Homo sapiens: one gene and its partners. The protein of the gene in region 1 interacts with the protein of each later gene in a biochemical or structural test. Each region holds a gene or a part of one and is shown in the gene's direction. Other genes may lie near its edges. The genes, in order: CUL3, KLHL20, DCUN1D4 and UBE2E3.

Region 1 (7,031 bases):
GAGGTTGGGAGTTTGAGACCAGCCTGACCAACTTGGTGAAACCCCATCTCTACTAAAAATACAAAATTAGCTGGGCATGGTGGTGGATGCCTGTAATCCCAGCTACTCAGGAGGCTGAGGCAGGAGAATCACTTGAACCCAGGAGGCGGAGGTTGCAGTGAGCCAAGATGACGCCACTGCACTCCAGCTGGGGCAACAATAGCGAAACTCCGTCTCAAAAAAAAAAAAAAAACTGAACAACTACACAGCTGTAGTTGGTAAACAGTCATTTTTATGACTGAGAGTTAGGCATGCTGAAGATAAAGAACTAGAAAACTTTCTAGTAGAGAGTGTTGTTTGCTCTCATCTGGTTCTGAAGGTTATATGTCAAACAATAATTGGATGCCAAGAATATTAAGGCATAGATAGAGTAGATCTCATCTCAGAAAATGGTTGGTGTAGCTCAATTTCAAGCCTTTGTGATATATGATATCTCTGGAACCTGAGGAGCTCACGACAGCATAGAAAATCAACTGAAGCATAAAACATGCTCACATCTGAATTGGTCTCTTTTGACTTCATTTTGGAATTTGTGACACCAAAGGGAAAAGCAACATGTCGTCACAGGTTTTACAGGCAGTAGCTGCAATAAGGGAACAAAATCACTAAGGTTGCACAGAATAGAAAAGTCTATTAATTTATGCATTCATTTGGTCTTCCGTTTTTCAAATATATTAATACAACCTGCCACAGAATCCTTTTGCCCTTATTTAAAAGTAAGGGCAGCCAGGCACAGTGGCTCACGCTTGTAATCCCAGCACTTTGGGAGGCAAAGGCGGCGGATCACCTGAGGTTGGGAGTTCAAGACCAGCCTGACCAATATGGAGGAAACCCATCTCTACTAAAAATACAAAATTAGCCGGGTGTGGTGGTGCATGTCTAATCCCAGCTACTCGGGAGGCTGAGGCAGGAGAATTGCTTGAACCCGGGAAGCAGAGGTTGCGGTGAGCCGAGATGGCGCCATTGCGCTCCAGCCTGGGCAACGAGTGAAACTCCGTCTCAAAAGAAAAAAAAAATAGAAATAAAAAAATAAAGTAAGGGCAATGGCCTTTTTACTGTTTGGATTATAACAAATTATTGCCTTTTGTTTGCACAGTTGAGGCTTTCAGTGAGCTTAAATGAAAAATTCCGTCTTTTGGCTGTGTAAGTTTTTGCCTGCATATGCAAAGGCTTCATAAAATAATCTCTGTGACTAAAATTTCATTTCATCTGTTCTCAATCATCCCTTAACCCAGCGCTATATTACCTTATGCCTCCAATTCAGTGGTAGCCCTCTACGGAATAGAATTCCACTCCAACCCCTCATTCATGATGCACTAAATGAGAATGTAAGAATGATGCTACTGTGTGAAGTAGGAGACACTTTCTCAAACCGTATCCCTTTTTTTGATGTATGTCAACCAGATATCTATGTTTTCAAACAATAGTGTTTTTAAGCTGTAAATGAACCGTAGTACTGCTTTTGTAGAACTAAAATTGTATAATTGTTACATCATCTTAATTTTGCAGCTAACAGAACAAGAAGTAGAAACAATATTGGATAAAGCAATGGTCCTTTTTAGGTTTATGCAAGAAAAAGATGTATTTGAACGTTATTATAAACAACACTTGGCAAGGAGACTTCTCACAAATAAAAGTGTTTCTGATGACTCTGAAAAAAACATGATATCTAAGTTAAAGGTAAGGTGTGTTTTAGATGAAATAGAGTGCACCTAACTGAGGTTTATTATGATTGTGTACTGACAACGTGATTGGAAATTAATTTGGTAGATTATTAAGTGTTTATTTCTAGAAATAAAGGTAGATTGTTTTGGAGAAGAACACAGACTACACTAACATTTGTTCAAGTTCAGGGACATTCAGAGTTTGCTGGAATTTCTGTTGGTGTGTCAGGATACATTCATGGAGGCCTGGAAGGGAGGATTAGTAAAAGGGAAACAATAAAGAGGCTATGCTGTGTAGTTCTTTTTCACAAAGTGTGGTCCATAGAATACTTGCACGTGAATCACCTGAGATGCTAGTTAAAAACAGTTCTGGGCCCTGCCTTTCATGGGGGTATATTGGAATCTCTGAAAGAATCTGGGAATTTGCATTTTAAAATCCTAAAGTTTGATAACCACAGGCACAGAGCAACTGTTGGAAAAATTTACAGGAAGATTATCAGGGATAGCAATAACATGAAATAATTTATTTCTTTCTGTACTTTCTCATAGAAACATCTACCATTTATTTGTGTATATTTGTGTTTTTCCTCCACAGACTGAATGTGGATGTCAGTTCACGTCAAAACTGGAAGGAATGTTTAGGGATATGAGCATCTCAAACACAACGATGGATGAATTCAGGCAACATCTACAGGCAACTGGTGTAAGATTCTGCGTTAATTTCTACTTAGATATTCATGTAAAGTCTTTTGTAATGGGTATATTTTCATCCACTTAGCAGATGACAGTTGTTTCTTTAAATGTCATTAGTGACAACATGTGTTTTATCTGTGAGTACTTAATTTTCCTTCACATTGCCTCTTATTCTGTGTTTATGTTAAAACTTTTTATTCTTTTAAAATTTAGTTGTTTCTTCCCACTTGAAGGAATACACTGACAATTTAATAAAGAGAATTATTCTGTTGTTAATAAAGATAATACAAATCTATTATAAATTGTGGAAAGAGTACTGGGCTTAACACAAGTTTACTGAGTTTCAGTACTCTTCTTTTCACTTTACCCCAAGATTGTGTCATCTTGGGATAGTCACCTGACCTTCCTATACCTCACTACTATTATTCTCCTCTGTAAGTTTAGCTTAAATGGGACTTACATCCTAAGGGTGCGTAGCAGGTGAAGTGAGACTATAAAAACACAGAAATTAATGTATTATAAATGTGTTTGGTATAACTCCCCAAAGGTGGTGAGCTGGAACTTCTTTAGCTTTGGAGTCTGATGGGAGTTTTATGAGCATTTAATGAAATTCAGAATTTAGTTTCATTTTTTACTCTGATTTTCAACTTAACCTTAAGTTTAGAGAATTGTACAGTTTTTAAATTTTTAAAATCACCGTGTACCACTCTATGGTTAAAATGTGTCACAACCATTTAACAGATTTGTGAGTCTTTTCCTTTGGTATCTAAATATGAGATCATCACTTCTACTGGCCTTATAGTCTCGCAAACCAGATACGTGAAAATACGTAATTCTGTAGAATAACCATTCATTTCTATGAAAACATTCTGACTCTAATGTAAATAGTTGTATGATTTGCTTTATAAATATCAGTGTTTACAGTGGAGAAGAGCTGAGAGGAGGAAAGATGCAAGTCCATGACAGAAATTTCGGGTGGACAGGAAATAGTGGTGTAATTATCCTGGATTTTTATTTTTAGATTGTTTAGGAATTTATAGTTAAATCTAATATATTGATATATTTTCTTGTATTTTTTTGTTTGCTCTAGTAAGTTTTTAAATTTTTTTCTTCCACTAATCTTACACATTGAAAGCTATAGGGAAGATTGGGCTAGATCCCATGCATATTGATATGGGATGGATGGACTGTCCACTTTGTGACCCTCCCTTCCCCTAACCAACTTGCGAATGTATAAACAGTTCTCCACCTCCCCCAGTACACCATCTAAGAGTCTCCTCTATGATCCTCTCTTCTGTGCATCATCCAAGTTTATTTTCAGTTTCCTTAAAGTTAAGTAATCATTTAGTGGATACTTGTGAAGAAATCGGAGTGTAGAATGCTTCTTGATATTCATAAACTGATTCCTCCCCTTAAAAATTTACATTACTAAATCATTGAGGTAAGATAAAAATGGAATGATGGTTTATAACACATCCTGAATATCAATAATAGAAATAATATTTAATCTTTAAGAGTTTTTGTTGTGCCTTATTGTTGTTTACTTAAAAATTTAATTTGTTTAAAGGAAGAAAATAATTGTGACAGTTGATACTAGCATAGAAGTAGTTATTCATTGTACAGATATTTGTAGAGCACCTGCTCTGTAGCACTGGATCTATAGTGTTATAGCACTGGATCTGTATGCAGAGGTTGTTAGAATGTGAGCTACATGCTAAAACGTAAAAGTTTTAATTAACTGTAGTTGAAATAGGTGCTGGAATATTAGAAATATGTATTAAGATAGTAAAAATATTTTAAAACTGAGACGAAGGATATTATGCTAGAATTTTCTCTAAAATGATATAATTGACCCTCCTTGACCTTTTATTTAAAAAGGCCCAAACTTTTCAGTTCTCAGTGATAACAGTAAGACTTGATTTATGTGCCAAAAACTATTCTTTGGTCAGTGTTTTTAAATTAACATAATAAGCAATAATTAAGCTATTTGCCATGTAGTTAAAATTTGGGAAACACTGGGTGGGTCTAACCTTTAAGGAAATCTGTTTTTTTGCCGGGTGCGATGTCTCACGCCTATAGTCCCAGCACTTTGGGAGGCTGAGACGGGCAGATCATCTGAGGTCAGGAGTTCGAGACCAGCCTGACCAACATGGAGAAACCCCGTCTCTACTAAAAATACAAAATCAGCCAGGCGTGGTGGGCATGCCTGTAATCCCAGCTACTCGGGAAGCTGAGGCAGGAGAATCGTTTGAACCTGGGAGGCGGAGGTTGCAGTGAGCCGAGATCGTGCCATTGCATTCCGGCCTGGGCAACGAGCGAAACTCTGTCTCAAAAAAAAAAAAAAAAAGAAAAGAAAATCTGCTTTTTTTTAAATTAGATATTAGACATGGAGCTAACTGCTTTGGTAAATCTAACACAATGTCTAAACAGAACAGAAAGCAAATCCTAGTTAATTTTGAGGGGAATATCTCTTTCTGTTTTACATAGGTATCTTTAGGTGGTGTTGATCTTACAGTCCGGGTGCTCACGACAGGATATTGGCCCACTCAGTCAGCCACACCAAAGTGCAACATCCCACCAGCACCAAGACATGCTTTTGAGATATTCAGAAGGTAAATCAAAATCAGACTTTGTATCACTGTGTACAAGTAAGTGTTCAAAATTAAAAATGAATTTGAACATTAGTATCCGTAATTGAGGATGAATGTATTCCATTTATTACCTCGTGATCAAAAGGAGCATTTATCCTGGCATACAGCAATTTCCCCCTCTATAGGATCTTGATGAGTAAAGTAAAGCAGGCATAATTTATCTCTAGAAAGATTGTTTATATGCTGGCATTTGAAATGCCTTTTATTTAGAGCAGCAGTAAAAATGGAAAAAGAGAAAGTAAATGATGATGGAAAACTAGACCCAGAGAATTCCTTGGACTTTTCTGAACACTTCAGCTAACTCCAATTGTTGGAAATACGTGGATACCTTATTCCCACTAGTACTCAGAGTCTCTGAGATGGCAGTTTTGATGAGGAAGAGGAGCAAGATGAAAAAAAAACAAGAGTGATATGCAAGAAAAAAACAGAGAAAGATCCAAGCAAATATTTTTTTTGGGCTGCTGAAAATAATTGGCTTATCCAGTGTGGAGACTGCTTTGTGAAAAGACCACTCGTGTGAACACTAGGGATGAAGATGAGTGTATCACCCCCTTCATCGAGCAGCCTAAGGTGGACACTTAGACATTGTCTGTGAGCTGATTGCACAAGGGGCAGAAGTTTTTGCAGTGACCGTAGATAGCTGGACACCCCTGCAGGGTGCTTATAAGTGGAATAATACCAGAGTGGCTTCTTTATTTCTTCAGCATGGTGTAGATTAGTTATCAGTGACCAAACAAAAGGTCTCTTGACCCACTTGCATCTTGCTGCTGGGATCAGAGACAGCAGAGCTACTCTAGAACATCTACTGGTGAACTGTTAACCTCAAACCAGATCTGAAAAAACAACTGGGAAGAAACTGTATTTGATATTGCCAGGAGGACAAGTATCTGTCACGACCTCTTTGAAATTGTGGAAGGCACTGTACAAATTCTTCACCTTAGTCTTAATGATTCTAGTAATTGTCTTAAGTGTCCAAGTACCAGTGCCTTCTTTGTGTGAGATGTAAAATATTCCCATAGTAAAAGGTTGACATCAAACATCTTACTACAAAAAATTCATTGGTACTTATTAAGATGTTCTTCCAGGTGAATTGCCTGACCTTGATGTCAAAATGTATTTGAAAGTTGTTTGAATATATCTTGAATGATTTCTGTGGAGTTTGTGATTTGTATCAGAAATAATTTCGACTTGCCTACACTTAAAAACTTGACGTGGGTTGTACAGAAACTAAAGATATTTTTGGTGCTGATCCAGGAGATACGTATTTTTAAATAGCCCATATCCTGGATCTTTGTTGAGTATTCAGCATATTGACATGTATCTTTGTAAGGTGAAGTAACTAAGAATTTAACTTAAAAAGCCTCGAACATTCTGGTGCTATTCCTGCTGTCTTCTCTACATTACCATAGCCAGTTGCTTTCATTTTGAACCAGAAGCACTAGCATATTATTGACTTGTAGCTTCATAAATTAAAAAAATAAAAACTAGATTTTGTCTTTTAGAACATAGGCCATTTTCCAGGAAAGCAGCTAGGTTTTAATCCATTAATCTTGTATACTGTCTCCACCACCACAATTCACATAATCCTGTAGACAGTCCTGCTTCACCCTGGTCAACTGCATGATCCTTATTGTAATAGTGAATCAGTATAACACTTTAGACATGCACACAGATAACACGCTGTTGCAAGAGTTCATGATATGTCTGCTGTCCAACTAGTTTTATTTGCCTGATCCTACTGGTTTAGGCACTGCCTATAGTCTCGAGTTCACAGAAATGTTGGGTTTTTTCCCTCCCCAAAGTCCTCATTTTTTATAAACTGTAGAAAGGCAAAATGACAAGGGAAAAGGAATTCTAAGAGTGAAGGGATGATTGTTATATTGGGGCAAGAACCACAGAGTGGCTCAGGCTTTGGAAAAAATATGGTGTGGATAGTGACAAAAAACATAAATATAAAAATTCAAGAAAAACTACCAGTTTTGAA
Region 2 (6,243 bases), on another chromosome or scaffold:
GACCCTGTGAGTGAGAGAGAGAGAGGGAAAGAGGGAGAGGGAGAGAGAGAGAGGAGGGAGGAGGGAGGGAGGTGGGGGAGGGGAGGGGAGAAGAAAACACCAGCCAGGGAACATGTGCAAAAGTGTGGAGGTGTGAAAAATGTATGTTATCTTCAGGGACTAGCAGTTAATCCAGTTTTACTGCAGCAATAGGATTCATTAGTTAGGAGTAAAGGGAAACTATAAGAGGTGAGGCTTAAATAGTGGGCTAAGATAGATTTCTGGAGGGCCTGAGTAACATAATAAGGACTTTAAAACTTACCCTTAAATAGTAGGGAGGCTTAGAAAGTTGTTTTGGTTTTAGGAGATTTTTTTGAGAGGGTCCCACTCTGCTGCCCAGGCTGGAGTGCAGTGTACACAATCTCAGCTCACTGCAACCTCGACCTTTCAGGCTCAAGCAGTCCTCCTGCCTCAGCCTTCCAAGTAGCCGGGACTACAGGTATGCCCCACCACACCCAGCTAATTTTTGTATTTTTTGTAAAGACAGGGTCTCACTGTGTTGCCCAGGCCTGTCTCGAACTCCTGGGCTCAAGCGATCCACCGACCTCAGCCTCCCAAAGTGAGAAAGTTTTTAGAGGAAAGTGACAATATGATTAGATTTATATTTTTCTGTTTTACTTTATTTTTGTAGAGATAGGGGTCTCACTGTGTTGCCCAAGCTGGTCTTGAACTCCAGGCTTCAAGTGATGCTCCCACCTGGGCCTTCCCAAAGTGCTGGGATTACAGGCATGAGGTACCATGCCTGGCCTAGATTTGTATTTTTAAAAGAGAATTTTACTAGCAATTAGAAAGATTAGAGCAGGCAAATACCAGAGGAAGTGAGAGCAGTTTGGAGGTTGTTTGCTCACTTCTAGTGAACAGTTTTTCTAAAATTTAAGAAATACATGTTTTGGATTCTGTGTGAATATTCTAATTGAATATATAATTTTATAGTTCCCATAATTTGATAGACTTTTGTTGTTACATTTTCCCTGTGTTTCAGTAAACCAGAATGTAAGGCCATAAAGAATTATCTTTTGTAAATAGATTTATCTAGAAACCAGTCTATAATTTCCTTACGATTGTCTAGTTTCTTCAGCAGCTTACTGTATTTTGGTTTTGTAGGTTGGCCTGGCAGTGGTCAATGGACAGCTCATGGCAGTAGGAGGTTTTGATGGCACAACATACTTGAAGACCATAGAAGTTTTTGATCCTGATGCCAATACATGGAGGTAACTTTTAAGCTGTGTAGCAAATCACCTCACTACTGATTTGGAAATCATGGGCTTGAAATAGCCTATGACCATCAGAACTGGGATGGTCAGTACATTGGAGTACTTTGAAGAGGGCTGAAGTTACACATATTTATGGCTCATTTTGACTTGATTGCTCTAAAGTGGCTGATATATTACAAAATTCTCCTTTTCAGTAACTGTCCAGTTTTATAATTAGAGATGGGTAAAATAGGGAAAAAAAATCTTCCTAGTCCCATCATGTTCAGCTGAGGAAACAAAAGCACCGAGAAATAAAATGACCTGCCTAAGTGAGTTAGTGACAGAGTTAGAATTAGAACCTAGGTCTTTGGCTCCAAATCTGTCCATGCCATTTTTTGGTGTTCTTGTGGGAAACCTATGCCTAGGAGAAACAAATTGCAATTACTTTTGAAAAATTAATATTTGAAAAATAATATTTCATTTTTAAAGCCATTTTAACTTTTAGGGAGGAGGCTACATCTTATTTAAGAGAGCTTAACTTAAACTTCATTTCTAGGTTTAATTTTACTTTGCTTTTAAATCCTCAATTGTCTAATAAAGCTTTCTTAAGTAGTTAAGTAGTTTTTATAATTTCACATAAATTAGGTGACTTTTGCATTTATTTTAAATATTCAAGAACCTTTACAAACTTAGCAAAATTCTCTTAAACCTTTAAACTTAAAATAATTAAGTCTAAATCTTTACTCAATCATATTTTATACTTGAATCACAAGAGTAATCTTATAGATGCCCTAAAAAGCCAAATTCTCTTAAACACTACAGGAACTTAAAATGCAAAACACATAGTTTATTCTCAAACTTTAAAAATAACAATACTATGGGTTTGATGTATGGCATATCTGTACTTAATTCTAAATACTAGTCTTCTAAGAAAACAGTTTTGCCTTCCAAGCAATTTGGGGTTTCCTTCTCAATAAAATGGGCTTACTTGCCTAAGCAAGTTTAGGGTTACCATCTCAGTGGTTAAGGTTGCACATCAACCAGAAATATCAGGCTGGACATGTGAGCTGAGGCAGCAGACATTCTGGGAAATTTTTCTTATGACCATGAAGGATAAGCTGAGCTCTGTTTTATTGTTACTATTCTAAAAGAGGCAGTCTTGTAGTCCTTTCTTACTGTATTCTAATAGTCTATCTCTAGGAAAGCCACAACTCTCACAGAGATTTAAGTGACATGCTTTGGATCCTACATATGTCTCACAGCTCCATATGACTCAGTGGTCACAAAACTAAAGTCAGGCTAATAACAGCGTGTACGTTTTGCTCCTACATCACATTTTTACAGTCCTGTTCATTAAGTAAAGATTTATTGATGGCCAGGCACGGTGGCTCATGCCTGTAATCTCAGCACTTTGGGAGACCAAGGTGGGCGGATCACCTGAGGTCAGGAGTTCGAGACCAGCCTGGCCAACATGATGAAACCTCGTCTCTACTAAAAATACAAAAACTAGCCAGGCATTGGGGTGGGCACCTGTAATCCCAGCTACTTGGGAGGCTGAGGCAGGAGAATCACTTGAACCTGGGGTCAGAGGTTGCAGTGAGCAGAGATTGGGCCATTGCACTGCAGCCTGGGTGACAGAGCAAGACTCCGTCTCAAAAAAAAAAAAAGATTTACTAAGTGCTCCGAGCCCTGGGGATACAAAACTGAACAACAACAACAAAAATTCCTGCCAAGCGCACGCCTGTAATCCCAGCTACTAGGGAGGCTGAGGCATGAGAATCTCTTGAACCCAGAAGGTGGAGGTTGCAGTGAGCCGAGATCACACCACTGCACTCTAGCCTGAGTGGAAGAGCAAGACTCCGTCTCAAAACAAAACAAAACAACAAAAAAGTTCCTTGCCCTGCTGGAGCTAACCAATTGTATTGAGGGAGACAAACAGTACCATACCAGTAGATGGAAGTGCTGTGGCAAATATCAAAGCAGGGGAGGGGGCTAGGGAGTACAGGGAGGGGAATCTGTTTTTAAAGGTGTTCAGGGAAGGCCTCATTGGAAAGGTAGCATTTTAGCAAAACCTAAATACGGTAAAGGATAGGTAATGGCAGCTTTGGGCCTCTCACTGGCAGGATATTTTCTTCCATATACAGCTTTCTATTTTTACTAGGAATTTTGATTAAGCATAATTTCTGAAGACAGCCAAATTTACTGTCACTTAATCACTATAATCTTATCTGAGGACTTGTTTCTTAGTAACTGTCACTAAATAGAATTAGTAATAGATGACAAAGTAATAGTCATGAAATTATTGAGGATCATCTGTTGAAAGATTAATAACTAAATATTTGCAGTTACATATCCAAGACTTAAAAACCAACTCTACCTCATAGCTGATAAGGGTCTAGTATTCTTCTCCATGGAAAGTCCTTAATTTTGAAGATGATCTTGTCACAAACTAGATGCTGACTTTACTCAAATCTGGTTTTGTTCTATAAAGGACTTGAAGAGGCTTACAGAGTACATATAAGACAAAGGGATAAAAATAAATAATTGAAGAATTTTAGGCAAAGGGAAAACATAGGTGGGACAATAATATAGCCAGGGGCAAAATTTTGAAAATGTAGAATATATAATTCTGTGTAACCGTTAGAAGTCAGTGAGGTATACAGTTGTAAAGTTCTGATGCCAAACGTGAATATGATGCTCTCTTATTCTTCACACAGCCTCCTATGAGTGAGAGCATGTCAGTCAATCTCTGAAACAGTCCTGCTACTCAACAGTGCTCAATTGCAGCTTCTAATCTTTAGAATGAAGACAATATTAGTGTGAAGCTGAAAATATTAGTTGTAATATAAAACATAGAAACGTGTTAATAACATCTTAGTCGTAGTTAATAACATCTTAGTTGTAACATATTTTCCAGTTAGAAAATATGATTATGTTTCTTTCTTTGCAGGTTATATGGCGGGATGAATTACCGTCGGCTAGGGGGTGGCGTAGGAGTTATTAAAATGACACATTGTGAATCCCATATTTGGTGAACACAGAGAAGACAGTCTTGTATATATTCCTCTGTATTCTGGGGAGCTTTGACCTTGGAGCTTTGTACAGCTTGAGAAAACATTAGAACAAATTTTATTATTTGCCGGTGCCTCAACAAATGGAAATACAATCCAATGAAAGTACTTCACCTGCAAGATGCACAATAATTTTCAACTCTGTGCAGAAGAATATTTATTTTTGGTTTTAATTTATCATGGTTTTTTGTTGTTTTCGTTTTGAACTTATCCTTCCTCCCACAAAAAAAGAAAAGAAGAAAAAATTCCAAGCAGCAAAACTTACTTTGTTTGTAAGGTATTCATTTAGGTTTGAAAATACTATTTAATAAGGGCAGAAGGGCTATATATGATTTGGCTATTATTTCTAGACACTCCATCCACATGATTCCACTAACAAGGATTACCAGGAATAAAGGTAGGTATGCAAAATGTATTAGCTACCCATTATTCTCGCACTAACCACCAGAAGACTTGAAAATCTTAAAAAAAAAAAACAAAAAAACAAGAAAAGGCAACATCTCATTTTAAATAGTACAATTCAGAAGGGATACTAAATCAATAAAAACCAGGACTCAGACACTACAGTTTTCATCAGTGTAATTTTATGTCTTGTTTCTTTCTATATGAACTTGTTTATTTAGTCTTTTTTTCATAATATTCTCATAGAGTTTCTGCTAGATCTAGAGCTCTGCTCAGTGCCTCTTATAAAAACAATATATAAGTCTCATATGCTGTCTTGAGAATCCAAGAGAATCACATGCAGCTCTGCAACAGTTTTTGCTCAAAAATGTTACTGACTAAAGCAACTGTCCTTCCTGTTTCCTTATTGCTACCAAGGACCAGCAGGGAGAAATGTCTTCTCCCAGCAGTGAATTCTGTTATGCAATTTATTCTTGATGCTCAGGCCTGGTTAAGCTGAGGCTTACCTTTAATAACAGCCTCCAAGGGAATGAATTATTCAGTTAATGTAATAGCACACATTAAAGAGTGTAAAATCAATTGAGGCATTTTATTAATATCTTGGTTCTTTTATACAAACAATGTATCATTATCTTCATTCTATAAGGTCATTGTTACTACTTCTCTCAAATTGCACTTTCTGGTAAAAAGTTAAAAATTTTTAAGGAAAAAATAATTTCAATGGTTAAAGTTTTTTTTCCTCATTGTATTCATAGACAAATTTTTTTCAATATATTTTGCAAGAAAAATCTTTGAATAAGACTAACTGCATTTAAAAGGAATAACCTCCTTCTCCCTTTCCCCAACTACAAAAATGTTTGGCAACTTTGTGTTTACATTTAAAGATCATTTGCACCTTTTTCAAGGAAAAAAAGTATTGAGTAAACAATTGTTTACATATATCATTTATGCTTTTTTCTAGCATGTATAACTTTTTTAAATAAAGGTAGTATTTACCATTAAAAAAATTTTAGCTAATGCTTTTTATCCTTGTACTTTTGTTATTTAATTTGGAATTTCTGTTTCTATATAATTTATTTTATCTGTATGTAAAGTTACAAGTGCTTTCAACTTGAATAAAAGGATTGCCAGCTAGAATTAATAGGAATTTTCATTATATATTTTTATATGTTATATTACCTAACCTATAAACTTATTTTCTAGGTAGGACTTAGACTCATACAATTTTGAGCTGGAAGGACTCTTTAACAATCATCTAGTCCAAACCCACTTATTACACTGATCCAAGTCTGAAAACCACAAAGTCTGCCTAAGAATAAATAGTCAATTAATGATAGAACCAACATTAGAAATCAGCTTCCTCAATTCCCAGTCCATTCCTCTTTCTATGCCACACTGCCACTATAGGTTTACCTGAAACTAAATATAATAAAAGACCTTAAGTATTTTAATTAAGTCTGGTATTAACATGTAAAAAGTATAAAAACTTTTATGAGATCCTCACTGTAGTACATCATTAACAATCAGTCTTCAAGACA
Region 3 (7,031 bases), on another chromosome or scaffold:
TTGTATCTTTTTTTTCTTTTTTGTCACCTTAGTGTATGTCCATTGTGACGGGGACATAGGTATTGATGATGGTGGAAGAAGGCACAATATATATCACAGCAAGACTAGAGATTTGGGGTTTAGTGAATGATTACAAACTCTGCAAAGGGAAAACTCTTCCAGAGCGCCAGTGTTGTCAGCCCAGTGCTGCATAAGCTGTTGTTCAACAAATGGACTTTGGCCGAGTCCTGTGGTGCCGCGTGTGTTTCTCAACAGTTTACTCGTTTATCTTGTGGATTGCTTCATAGTATGGTGTGCTGTTGCCGTCTGCCACACCTGTGTTACAGGGTAAGAGGAAGTTTTCCATTTGCTTGCACAGTGTCATCACAGAAGTGTAAGCCCTTGAAACACAACAAACCAATGCAGTTTGTCTGGCAAAAGGCAGGCAGTCTCTAGATCACCTCTTCTCCTGTCCTCTTCTCCATTGGGAGTGCGTACTGCAGCCCTGAGCAGGACAATACATATGGCCAAGGGACAGGCAGAGAACCCTGTGGAAAGGAGGTCCCACCTGTTTGCATAGAACTGTGGAACTGGGATACACCTGCCCTCATCAGACTTAAGTTATGTGACCTCTGAAAGAAGGGTGATGTGGAGCCATCTGACCTGGTCTATTCATGGACAGTCGTTACACTTCACAACTGAGACCAAAAGGCCAGATCTATTGCACATCTTCCTTAGGCAACAAGTTTCCTTGTCTTCATCTACCTTGATTGTTGTTGTTAAGTGAGGCCCTTACATTTGCTGTATTAAGTCCCAATTCAGGGTCATGGCTAGAAATGGTTTGTATACTAAAGAGTACCTCACTGTTAAGCGTCCTTGCAGTGATGATTTATTTTATCAGGAGGTATATATGGCTGCATATGTGGCTTAGGGTGGTGGTCACAGCATCATCCCTTAATTTGAACATTTAGATTCCACTGCACTGGGCTAGCCAGGCACTTTCTCCCTTTGTAAAAAACTACTTTTACAAATTTCCACTGTAGTTAAGATAACACATGGAGGCTAGCTTTGGATATGTAAGGTATGCTTATGGTCCCAGGCCCTCTATTCCTTTCCATGGAAACTGACCGCTTGTAGTTCTGGAATGGAAGCATATAAGAAAGACGGAAATGAGAAATTAGGATCCTTAATTGCAAATGTAAGTGGAATGAGCTTACCCTGCCCTTATTTAGGTTTATGTTCTTATCTTTTTTTCTGGTGTCCTTATGAAATGTTGTCTTTCACTTGGTTACTAGTTAGGAGTATTTTACTAGGAAATTTACGTCTAAGAAATCTATCTATCTATCTGTCTATTGAAGGACTGTATTGATAGACTTCCTGCCTTCCACCAGAGTGGGTAGATGAATCTATCCTCTGATTTAGAGAGACACTTCAGAGCCCCAGCATTTGGTATGAGCTGAAGTCAATTCCAGCATGTTTAGGTTCAAGAAAAATATTTATCAATGAAATCAAATTGATTTCGTTTTTATTAAGGAAACCTGATTCCTAATCATAGGCATCAAAACCTTTAAGCTCCGTTGAGTTATAGGCTTTATGGTCAACAATTAGGATTTTGATAATTATCATAAATATCAAACAAGCAAGTGATTGAGTTACAAGTTTTTATTAATCCCATGAAAAGCCTGTAGAAACTGCTACGACATAACTAATTGATTTTGCATTAGGGTGATCATTCAGTTGACATAAATCTTTCTCACAGTAAATTTATATAATATCGTAATGCCCAAGCCTTCCATTGTGTTTGACTACCTCCCCTCCCTAACCTTAGTCTGGATGCAGGGTCTTTAAGGTGTATGATAAATGAGCTGTTTACTAATTTCCTGTTGAAGTGAATACACATTTGCAATTATTGGAATTTATTATTTGGGGGCATCTGGCTCATCCTTGTTTTTGTTTGTTAAACAGGAAAAGGACCAGCGCAGCCTAGACATAAACACTGCCAAGTGCATGTTGGGACTGTTATTAGGAAAAATCTGGCCCCTTTTTCCAGTTTTTCACCAATTCTTAGAGGTACCAAATTGTTGTTTTATGAAATGTATGTTTGCTTGCTTGGAACTACCAAATAACTTTATTCACCCGTTGTATGTAATTTTTTGTTTGTTGTACTTTTCTGCCTATGTAGGAATTACGGTGACATAATTGCTGTCAGTCAGCAGCTACCTATCTTCTTGGAGTGCATCTGTGTATGCGTTTAATGTTGTGTTGCTTCATTCCACATTAAAAATGCATCCGAAACAGCCACAGCTCTGTCCTTTTCTCTCTTTTCTCATCCCCATTTTAAAGCTTCACTTTTGTTTAGATTTTCTGTTCTTTGTAACAATAGAAAAAGAAGATTTACTTTCTTTTGACTTTAGATGAACTTCCACTTTTATTAAGCAGAGGTTTAAAAGACAGTCATCTGCCTTCTTACCAAAATTAGTTTGTAGTATGTTCTTATCTACTCTTGTCACCAAGTAACTTGAGGACCTTAGATCAATCTAAGTATTAGGCAGACTGACAATATCTCCTTCAGTTTAAATTGTCTTCAGATCAGTATCAGAACAATCCAGCACTTTATTCCATCATTGTTTGTGTGCTTTTAAGTATTGATGATCAGAAATTCTGAGCTACTGGTTTTGTTGAAGTGTCATTCTGTGGGACCTGGAAGTATATGGGATACAAGTTTGAGTTACTTGGGTTGTCATATATGGCATCCTCCTTTCCCTCCTGCCCCAAGCCCTTCTAAAAAGTGTCCTTTGCTTGCAAGGATGAGGGTGTTGGGTCTTTGAGAAAATGCTGGGCCGTAAGATGACTCTGGCTTCACTCTTGAATAATCTTTCTCACAACTTACTTTATGTAATGGTCCAGAATATTTTTAATATCTGATAGGATTCTTTGAGAACTGTTATTAAAAATTTCTTTTAACATTACTAAGTGGGACTCCTCAAAAATTTAAAAACTAGTTTTACGTAAGTATCTGTTTACCCAAAATAGTCCATGTTGACATATGGTCTGTTCTAATTTCTCTGACAATCCCTTGAGATGAGTTAGCATTATTTGGAAAAATAAATAGAAATAGTTCCCTGTTCTCAGAGAGTTTAGCTGGATTTACACCTGTGTGTAAAGAGTCTTAAGCTGGAAGACCTGGCCTGGAGGAAATCTGACTTTGTGTAATTCCAGGTGCATCATCAACTGTTTCAGGACTGGTTTTTGCTTTTACCTGCTTAGAAAGTTAAACTTGTAGTCTGTGCTTTGTTCTCTCTCTTACATTAGTTTGCATTTTTCTTTAAAAAAGACAGTATTCCTCTCATTTCAGCTTTTCTTGTGTTTGCATCCTCAAAACCATTGACTCAACTCTCTTTGCTTTTTATGTACTTGTATTGTTTTACTATGTTTCTGATTTTAGTGGGGAAGATTTAAAAATCATTGGTTCTGGATTTTATTTATGAATCTTCATACAGGGATACTGTATTTTTAAATAGACACATGGCAAATTTCTCGTCTAAGAGGAATAGAAAAACGATTTCACAGCTATTCTAGCTTCTTTTATGATCAGATTCGAGTTTTGAATTATTAGAACAGTAATTTTTTTCTGTGACAAGAACACCTAATTTTGAGACCACTTGCAGCACTTACCGGATCTCGTCAAGTAACCTGCTGCTGCATGTGCTTTAAGCCGAAGGCTTGGCCATGGGCAGTGCTGGTTATGTCAGGGGTTATATTAATGGGAGCTACTCTTTATTTAGCACTTACTTTGTGCCAAACACTGAATGAAGTGCTTCACATAAATTAGTAAATGATCTCTTTTAATTCTTATAATATCTTTATGAAGTAGATATTATCTGCATTTTATATAAAATGGCTTTTGCAGTTTAGAATTTTCACTTCTGGGGATATATAATCATGTTATTTTGATGTGCTTTCCATTTTGTATTGAGACCCTGTCATATTTTTGTAATGACAATTGTCATCTTAAATTCTACTCTTGCTCTCCCTCACCATCCTCCTAGATTGGTGCTTAACAAACCTCAAACAGAAAGAGTTAACCTTACATGAACTTAATTAAGTTGATTCATAAAGCAATTGAAACCGTCCCATTTGTTCATTTTAAGTGTCAGTAATTCATATTACTTTTCCCTCCATCAGCAATCAAAATACAAAGTTATTAATAAAGACCAGTGGTGCAATGTCCTAGAGTTTAGCAGAACAATTAATCTTGACCTCAGCAACTATGATGAAGATGGAGCATGTAAGTACTGCCGCTACCATTCTGCCATTCGTGTACATTTCTATATCATCCTCATTGGGAAAAGCCTCAGCTACATTACTATTATTATTATTGTTATTATTATTATTATTACTACTGTTTCTCTCTTTCTCTCCAGGGCCAGTTTTGTTGGACGAGTTTGTGGAGTGGTATAAAGACAAACAGATGTCCTAGGACTTTATGCATAGCAGCGAGAGAGTCACTGTTACCACAGTTTTGTCACCCATTAGCCATAAATTGCTGTTTGTATCAAAGCGCATGCTGCTTCTCTTGCACTGTTTCCCTTTCGCAGGGACATGTTGGTGTTTGCTATTGAATTGGCCAGCTCTGCTTGCTGTGTGGCATTGTTCTCTTGGAAGGCTGCTTTGCAGTTTGTATTTACACTACAGATTGGTGAATTTGCCAACGTCCTCACTGTGATTATGTGTATATTGCTGTTTAAATTTTGTATATGTGTATAAAAGGAAAAAGGTTCACCTAGAGATTATTTCTGAAAAATGTATTGTAAAAATAATTTTGTGGCATTTCTAGTCCCTTTTTTTGAATGAACCAATTATACTTTATTTGGTCTCCTATGTAGCATTTCAGAAAACAAGAGAAAACTGTTACCATGAACAAACATTGCCAGAATTAACCTTACTGTTTAAGAGGCCAACTTCTGGAAGGAGGTAGGAGTCATAACTTTTTAGAGGCATATGCCAAATATCATTTGGTATACTTAACAATATTAGTGTTTTAAAATGATGAGTTATAATTATTTGAACATATAGATATGTAACATGCCACAAATCATTTCTACCATGCAAGGTGTATAAGTTGTTTATTTTTTAGTGTTAAAACTATAATAGCTTGAATATAGGTACCAATGAACAAATTCAAATTGCACCTCTTTTCTTAAAAGAATGGGATTTAAACTCTTATAAACATTCTTTAACTTTTTTGTTTGTTTGTTCTCTTTTTTTCCTTTTGCATTCTTCTAGCCAGTGATTGATCTGCTAATGCTTTCTTTGCCACTCTAAGTAAAATTTATTTCACCTCCTCAATGAAAACCTCATGGTTTTGCTGGCTGTTTATAACTGCATCGCACTTCTAGTTGTGGCTTGAATTTTCAGTTAAGCTTTCATGGTATGTAATTTTCCAGCCTTTTGAGAAAACAAGCATACTATAAGTGAGAGCTGTTTTGTTTTCCTTGTTTGTTTGTTTCATGCTAGGCTTTTCCTGGCAGCATGTCCATTGCAGGCAGTGGACAAGAAACCACCAGCATTGAGCTAACCCAGTACATGCTAGGACCTGTCCTAGAGGGGCCACTTTTCATTACCTGAGTTATTTGTACAGAAGGGCAATAGCCATTATTTTTGTGGATGAGGAAACAAGAATAAACAGAATGGTATTTTTAGGTTTGTATTTTATGTCTTTTTTTTTTTTTTTTTTTGCCATTCTTGAGGAAATATAGAGATGACATGTTTTCACCCCAACTATCTGGTGCTATTGAATGACTAATTCAGTCCCTAAAGTTCTGTGAAAACACAAAAGTCTAATGATTTGAGTGAGTAAAAGGTAATGGTGCATTTGAACAAGTAAATGCTGTCGTGGTCAGCAAGATCCGTGATTTGAACATGTGATGACTGGAAAAAGGTTTGGGTTATTTGGAACTCTGGCTAAAACTTCTTTCGGGTGACATGTGATCGTTTAAATGGCATTAAGTGAATAAAGCACACAGACAGTGCTACTCTTGACCACTATTTTACCATTTCTTTGCAAACAGTGTTCACATTTTCATATTTTTTCCCTAACTAAACCACCAAAGAAAGAAATTTTGTATGTATATACAGTGTGTGTGTATACAAAATCATGATATAGTAGAATGCAACTACTTTCTTTTTCTACCAAACGAAAGGTTTTATTTGCTGTGAAATAAACCAGAAGTTTAAAAAACCCTGTAGTGATTAAGCATACTTAACCACTCCTTATTTGTAGATTCACTTTCAACCTTAAAAATTAATACCAGTTTGCATAAACCAATATCTGAAAAGAACAGGAAATGTTAATGGCAAGCAACAGCTATTAATACTGATGTGATGGATGCATTTGTTTTGCAGTGGTGACTGGCCTAGGCAGGTTTGGATCTGTGAAGAATTGATTCATTTTCAAAATTATTCCATAAAGTTAAAAAGTTACACTTTAAAGGCAACAGGTCATACAGTTCTTTAAATCTGATCAACTGTAGCTTTATTTAAAGCAAATATAAATCATAGATGAAGTTATTTTAAACACTATGTTAGAATATAGAGATTTTTAAAAAATGCTGATAAGCACAGTTAATTCTAAAATGAGAGGATTGTTACAGGAGGGAGATGTTACAGTTAATCCACAATCAACATTTTGATGGTAGGGAAAAAACTGCGTAAAAACTATTGCATTATGTATGATAAGAAAGTAAGTATTCCAAAGGGATAATCTTGCATATTAAGAAAACTCCAAATAATCTTTAAACTGCCTTGAAAAATAAACCTCTTTGACTGCTGAGCGGCAGAGTGCTTACCCTTGATTGTCTTGATTTTATATATTTATTTCTAAGGGGAGAAAAAGGGGTCAGACAGAGTAATATGATACATTTTCTTAAAAACTTCTCTAAGTTGCACAAAACTGAACAATCATCAAGCACTTATTTACTGGCTAATGTTGAATAAATTAGGGTGCCTTCATCTGGGTTTTCTTTAGTACCTAAGTCTACAACCCTTTCTCT
Region 4 (7,031 bases), about 43 Mb from region 1:
CCCCTTGTATCTCTGCCCCTGCACAGACACACAACCACCCCTGCTATTATTGTCCCACACTACAGTGGTATAGTTGTTACATTCCAATCGATAAACCTACATTAACACATCATTATCATGCAAAGTCCCTAGTTTTCATATGGGTTCACTCTTGATGTTGTACATTTTATGGATTTTTACACATATATAGTGACATATCCGCCATTCATACCATACAGAAAAGTTCACTCCCTTACAGATCCTCCGTGCTGTGCCTCTTCATCCCTTCCACCCCACTAACCCCTGGCAACCACTGATATTTTTACTGTTTCTGTAGTTTTGCCTCCAGAATGTCATATAGATGGAGTCATACAGTATGTAGCCTTTTCATATTGGGTTCTCCCACTTACTAATATGCATTTAAGTTTCATCCATATCTTTTCATGGCTTGATAGCTCATTTCTTTTTAGCACCGAATAATATTTCGTTGTCTGGAGGTACCACAGTTTATATATCCATTCACCTACTGAAGTAACATCTTGATCACCTTCAAGATTTGGCAGTTATGAATCAAGCTGCTATTCACATCTGCATGCAGAATTTTGTGTGGACATAAGTTTTCAGTTCATTTGAGTAAATACCCAGGAGTGTGATTACTGGATCTTATGGTAAGATATGTTTATGTTTGTAACAAGATTGCCAAACTGTCTTCCAAAGTGGACATCCAGATGCATAAAAATGAATCTAGATATTTTGCATTTCCTGTACCATTTTGTATTCTCCACTAGCAATGGATGAGAGTTCCTGTTACTCCACATTTTCTTCAGCATTTGTTGTTGGTGTTTTGGATTTGGGCCATTCTAATAGGTGTGTAGTGGCATGCTTTTCTTGTTTTAACTTGAAATTCCCTAATGACATGAGTTTGAACAGTTTTTCATACGCTTACTTGCCATCTGTTTATCTTTGGTGTGAGGTATCTGTTCAGGTATTTCACCCATTTTATAATCAGGTTGTTCATTTTCTTTAGTTTTAATGGTTCATCGTATATTTTTGATAACAGTTCTTTATCAGGTACATCTTTTGCAAATATTTTCTCCAAGACTGTTGCCTGCCTTGTTCTCTTGACATTGTCTTGCAGAGCAAAAAAAATCTAGGCTGCAGTTACAGATTTGGAAGTTAAGAGCATATTGGTGGTATTGGGAGCCGTAAAACTGCATAAGATAACCAAAACAGTATATGTAGGTAGAAAAGAGAAGAGTGTAAGGTCTTAGCTCTGGAGGACTGGTGATATTTAAAGCTTAGGGTGATAAGGAATAGGAATAGAGAGTGAGAACGAGGGGCCAGGAAATGTAGGAAAGCTAACAAAGTATGTTATTCTAGGAATGAAAGAGAAAGTGTATCAAGGAGGATGTGATTGGCTGTGTCAAATGTTGCTGGACCAGTCAAATAATATGAAGATTGAGAAATGATCATTGGGTGTAGTGATGAGGTCATTGGTGACTTTGGATAAGAGCTGTTTCAGTGGAGTAATGGGAGGAAATGCCTGTTGGGAATGAGTTCAAGTAACAACAGAGGAGAGAAACTGAAGATAGCAGATGTAGATAAGATTTCCAAGGAGTTTTGCTGTCAAGGAAAGATGATTGAGATGGAAACTCGAAGGGAGAGAGAAATAGAGATTTTAAAAAATAATAATAAAGTTGGGAGAAAGGGCATTGTTGGATTCTTATTGGCATCACTCACCAGAGAAGGAAAAATGGATGATGATTCAAGACAGTGGAAGAGACAGAGAGTGTCGGTCAGTTGCTAGCCTCTAATATGATTTGTTTAAATTACAGTGGACTCAGCCCTGCAACTGCTCATGTCCCTTCCTGACCCCTTCCCATCTTGCCGTATGTTTTGACTAACAGATGGTACATTTATGAGAATGAAAAGAGGCCCCTAATCCAGACAGGTAGCCAACACTACCTGGATTTTAGGACTGGATTTTAGCCTTCACTTGTCCTAAACTAGGTGTCTTTGGGTACAGCAAAGTAATCATACTACCATAGCTTCTCTGCTTAGTCTACTCCAAGACAATAGGAAAAGTTATTTACTATCCTGCAATAGTTAAATGTACACTTTGTCCTATAGTTAAATGTACACTTTGTCCGATGGCAAATAGCATGATAAGTGGGAAGAGAGCACATTTAAGAACTAAGAATTTGGTGTGGGAATCCAAGCTCTTCTATCAACTGGCAGTAAAATATATTTGAGGAGAGTTTAAGGCGTATGAGTCGTCTTACCAACAAGTAATTATGAGTTTAGATTTTATTTGAACTATCTCTCTTGTTTGTATTTTATAAAGTAATGGTGTGTTAAGCGCAGTGCACCAAAATGTAACTAAGACTTAGTAGCACCTAGGACTCAGATCTTGGTTTTTCTTACAACATTCGCACTGAAAGGAACCCTGGCTCTTTGGAAAAATGTTTGATTCCAAGGATGGGATTCCTTATGCCAAAGGAAGGAAATGCTTAAAAAAAAAAAAAAAAAAGATGCTAACATGTTGCAAGGATATAGGAGTCATTTTGAAAGGGTTCCCCATCAGCCAAATCTGCAATAATTTGGGTATCAAAATAATTAAAGTCAGTAATGACTTATAAAGCATTGGGAAAAAATGAGACCATACCAGTAATACTTCTGTACATACGTACAGGCAGGAGAAGAGGCTCAAGGGGTAACTGTTAAGTGTAGAGAAAGTTCTAGAATTGGAAAATCATGATTTTATTGCTGTAACAGAATACCTGAGACTGAGTAGGTTATAAGGAAAAGAGGTTTATTTGGTTCACCTGATGGGCATCTGCATCTGTTGAGGGCCTCAGGCTGCTTCAACTCACAGTGGAAAGGCAGGCATCAAGTGCAAAGAGATCACAAAGCAAGAGGAAGCAAGAGAGAGAAACCAAGGAAAGCCACTCTTTTTAACAATGAGTTCTCTTGGGAACTAATTCATTCTTGCTAGAGTGAGGACTCACCCCTGAGGGAGGGCATTAATTTATTCATGAGGGATCTACCCCTCTGACCCAGACACTTCCCAACATTGCCGCGTTTGGGGGTCAGATTTCAACTTGAGTTTTAGCAGGGACAGATCAAACCATAGCAATCACAAATGGATGCTAAATCTTGGGAAGAAATTTTGATAAGAAGCAGGATATTTGCCTGGTCTTGAAGTGTCTGTCCAAATATTGCTTATTGGTTGCAGGGAAAAGATAGTAACTAAGCAGTAGGAAAATTGGATAGCAGTTTGTCTGGATGATGAAACTTAACATCACCAATGAGGTACAGGTAGGTGCTGTGTGCCTCCAAATGTGATACCATGAGAAGGACACATACTATTTCAGCCAGACACCTACTATTTCAGCCAGAAATGCGTTACATGAATCAAATCATGAGGAAACATGGCAAGCTCAAAATGATGAGCATTTTTTAAAAAAGAAGACTAGATTCTGCAAAAAACGTTAATGTTATAAAAGTTAAAGAAAGGCGGAAAGGACCCATATTAAAGGAGAATAAAGACACAGGAAATAACGTGGTTCCAAGACTGGGTCCTGCATCGGAGAAAAATTAATTTTTTAAAAGGGTATTACCGAATCAGTTGACAACATTATAATACAAATTGTACTTTAAAGAATTGTATTAATGTATTTACTGAAATTGTAACTGTATTGTAATTTATAGGAGATTGTTTTTAGGAAATGCACACTGACATGTTTATGGGGAAAAGGCCGTGTGCAACTTTCAGGTGACTCAGAAAAAAGTATGTCTCTATGCATGCTTGCAGGTTTAGAGGGGTGTGTGTTTCGGGAGAGAGAGGAGCAAATGGGGCAGAGCAGAATGCTAATGGAGACTGGGTAAAGTTATACCAATTTTCTTTGTACTTTTCTTGCATTTCCTCTGTAAGTTTGTAATATTTCCAAGTAAGTTCATACACACATGCACATGCAAACACATTGGGGCTTATTTCTTTTATACTTATTTTACTTCTTATTGCTCTAGATTGCTAATTTACCTTTAACACTTCCCTGGTTTTAGGATATTAACATTCATTGCTAATATATGTACATACTGATTTTTAATTTCTTTTAAATAGTGCTGGGCCTAAAGGAGATAACATTTATGAATGGAGATCAACTATACTTGGTCCACCGGGTTCTGTATATGAAGGTGGTGTGTTTTTTCTGGATATCACATTTTCATCAGATTATCCATTTAAGCCACCAAAGGTAAGAAGCTTGAAGTGCATTCTTTAGTATTTAATCCTTCTCCTCTAAAATCGGTTATTCTAGAACTTAAATGTGTATTGATGCAGTTATTTTGATTTCATTGCTTTTCATGGATTGATATGGAAATTTTCGCATAATCAAGAATTTTAAAACAGTAATTGACTCCTTTCACAAATAATTTGTAATAAACAGAAAGAGTTTAATTCTTAATTGTAAATAAAACTATACCTTGCACATCAATAAAGCAGATAAATTTTATGCTTATGAGGGAGAAGATCCTATGAACCTTCATTAATACCTTAATTAATAATACCTTAATTAACTATTAAGGTATTAATGAAGGTATTAGGATAAAAAGTAAAACTGTTTGACAGCTTCCAGAAATAAGGGTTTAATAATGTGAATTTTGTGCTGAATACCTTTATAGATAAGCAAAAACTTCATAGCCAAGAAGAGGGAAACTAATAATATTTAGTAAACTCATTTTGTACCTTCTGTGGGTATGATGTAGTAGTGGAAGCAGAATGCCTGAGTTTTGTTGGCTCTGAGTTCATTTGAAGTATGAATTAGATGGATAACAGAGAACGGGGTGAGTTGTGCCTTCTAATGACCATCAACTTTGCAAAGCTTAAATATAACAATTACTTGAATGGCTCCCTCCGCTAACTTCTGTTTCTACAATGGTCAAGTCAGCAGGTAAAAACCACTGGAATTAAGCATGAGCATTATTATGCTGTTGTTACAGAGATGTCTGACATAGCAGGGGAAAGTGTATTTTCAAGTCCATAGCCCTTAACTATGGTGAAATGTTTTTCTTTTCCAACATGGTGACTTTTGTTCTCTGTACTTTTAAAAATTTATGTTGCAGTCTATACCATTTAAAATTTATGTAGCCTGTGTGTATATGTATATGTGCACATAAACGGATTTATTTTGTGAATAAAAGAGGGTTATTTCTCAGTAACTTATTGTCTAACAAGGTAACGAGTGCCATCTAGTGGTATTTACCCCAAACCGCAGACACCATTTACTCTCAATTACAGCTGTTAGTGTTTAAAGTGCTTTACCGTGTGGTCCCATCAGCATGTAAGATCTTGAAATTATTTTTGCATATGGGGAAGATTAATTGAAGAAAAAGACTCTTAAGTTTTCCTGGACACCTTTTAATGAAAAACAGAAATTGGCTAATATAAGAATTTCACACTATATAGTACTGTATATGATTTGCCGTAATTTTGATGAATATAATGATTATAAATTTAGCATGTTGGTTTTTTGCTGAAATTGCAATATATCATCTAATTCTTTAGTGTTCACTCTGTTGCTGAGATATACAGTATTAACCATTAAGATCTATAGTTGGACAAATGAAAAATAAGATTTCTGGTATAATCTTGGTATTTGGAACAATTATTTCTCTGCAATGCTAAATCTTTTTGAAGTTTGGAAAAGTTGAGCTTCTTGAAGGATAATAAATATTTAATAGAAATCTGCTCATGAATGCTATTCTGTTCACTAGTTATAGCTGAAAATATATTTGTAAATCACATATGTATTGAGCAGTAACGTCAGTGATCTGAACATAAATTATTTCTATATTCTAGAGCAGCATTAATGGAAATATAGTAAAATCTACATGTATAATTTTAAATTTTCTAATAGCCACATAAAACATAAAACAATTTTAATACTATATTAGTTAACCCAACATATTAAAAATATTGTCATTTCAACATGTAATCCGTGTAAGAGTATTGTTAATGAAATCTTACACATTTTCTTTTTGGTACTAACTCTTTGAAATCTGGTATTTATTTTACACTTCTAGTTCGTCTCAATTCACCTTGCCACAATTTAAGAGCTGTATATGCACATGTAACTAGTATATGCTGTATTGGTCAGAGCAGTTCTAGAGGGGCATACTCTCCTCCTCCCCCACTAAACTAGTGTGTTGGTCCCCTACCCCCTCCCTGTCATGCATTCTTTTCAGGAAGACACTTTTGAGAGCATTTAATGTTTTCCTCCCAGATTCAACTTTTGCGCTCACAGTACACTGCTAGTTTTCAAATGATCAGAAATTTTTTTTTTTCTCGGCAACTCCAATTATGAATTAGCTATCCAATTAGTGTTTGTGATTGTTTTGAGACTTGGCAGTGTTTGTTCTTATGATTTATCTTCTTTTCTCACACATTTCAGGGATATATTAGTTTCCTTTATCCAGTAGCTAAAAACCTTGTTTATTTTATTTTAATATTTTAGCCTAACAAGACAGTGAACCAGCTGTAGAAATAAAAGGCTAAGAAACAGAAAGGCAGGTAGTGTGAATGATTTTACCAACCGTCTTCTAAATCCTCCAGTATTTTCTAACGTTTGGTAAGAAATTAGCTGAATTGATACTGATCTTTTCTAGTAAGAAACTGATGTAACTTTTATGTTTTAAAAAAAAATCTTCATCAGTTCCTCTTACCTTCGGCACCAAAACATTTCTTTTCTTCCTCACTTTCTGTCTTTCTGTATGTATGTGTACACACACAGTTGTATATGCTGTGGATGTGTATGCAAACAGACGTACCCACACACATAGATGGAATTACTGTATCAGTTATTTAAGTATAACTGATCAGTTCCTCACTTTAGTTCTTTCTATACAGGGTAAAAACAAAAAATTTTTTTCAACTGAGTCAAAAGCATTTAATTTTGTTATTAAACCTAATCTAAGTTTAGCTCCAGTCAAATAATTTAGTATCATCTATGATATATTACCCTTCATTTTTTTTTAGTGTTTTAATTGGTAAT

What was found.
Region 2: the proteins of CUL3 (region 1) and KLHL20 form a complex in vitro, tested with the Homo sapiens proteins (2 studies listed by BioGRID and IntAct).
Region 3: the proteins of CUL3 (region 1) and DCUN1D4 form a complex in vitro, tested with the Homo sapiens proteins (2 studies listed by BioGRID, with this or other methods).
Region 4: the proteins of CUL3 (region 1) and UBE2E3 form a complex in vitro, tested with the Homo sapiens proteins (one study listed by BioGRID).

What each region holds. Positions count from the first base shown.
Region 1 is NC_000002.12:224,498,340-224,505,370, reverse strand, and holds part of CUL3 (cullin-3), read left to right. Parts: intron 1-1,548; coding exon 1,549-1,719; intron 1,720-2,298; coding exon 2,299-2,406; intron 2,407-4,883; coding exon 4,884-5,008; intron 5,009-5,153; exon of another isoform or gene 5,154-6,191; intron 6,192-7,031. UniProt on the Homo sapiens protein: Core component of multiple cullin-RING-based BCR (BTB-CUL3-RBX1) E3 ubiquitin-protein ligase complexes which mediate the ubiquitination and subsequent proteasomal degradation of target proteins.
Region 2 is NC_000001.11:173,780,981-173,787,223, forward strand, and holds the end of KLHL20 (kelch-like protein 20), read left to right. Parts: intron 1-1,143; coding exon 1,144-1,250; intron 1,251-4,182; coding exon 4,183-4,267; 3' UTR 4,268-5,712; downstream 5,713-6,243. UniProt on the Homo sapiens protein: Substrate-specific adapter of a BCR (BTB-CUL3-RBX1) E3 ubiquitin-protein ligase complex involved in interferon response and anterograde Golgi to endosome transport.
Region 3 is NC_000004.12:51,909,126-51,916,156, forward strand, and holds part of DCUN1D4 (DCN1-like protein 4), read left to right. Parts: intron 1-32; exon of another isoform or gene 33-327; intron 328-1,944; coding exon 1,945-2,049; intron 2,050-4,164; coding exon 4,165-4,267; intron 4,268-4,403; coding exon 4,404-4,459; 3' UTR 4,460-7,031. UniProt on the Homo sapiens protein: Contributes to the neddylation of all cullins by transferring NEDD8 from N-terminally acetylated NEDD8-conjugating E2s enzyme to different cullin C-terminal domain-RBX complexes which are necessary for the activation of cullin-RING E3 ubiquitin ligases (CRLs).
Region 4 is NC_000002.12:181,053,591-181,060,621, forward strand, and holds part of UBE2E3 (ubiquitin-conjugating enzyme E2 E3), read left to right. Parts: intron 1-4,102; coding exon 4,103-4,235; intron 4,236-7,031. UniProt on the Homo sapiens protein: Accepts ubiquitin from the E1 complex and catalyzes its covalent attachment to other proteins. In vitro catalyzes 'Lys-11'- and 'Lys-48'-, as well as 'Lys-63'-linked polyubiquitination.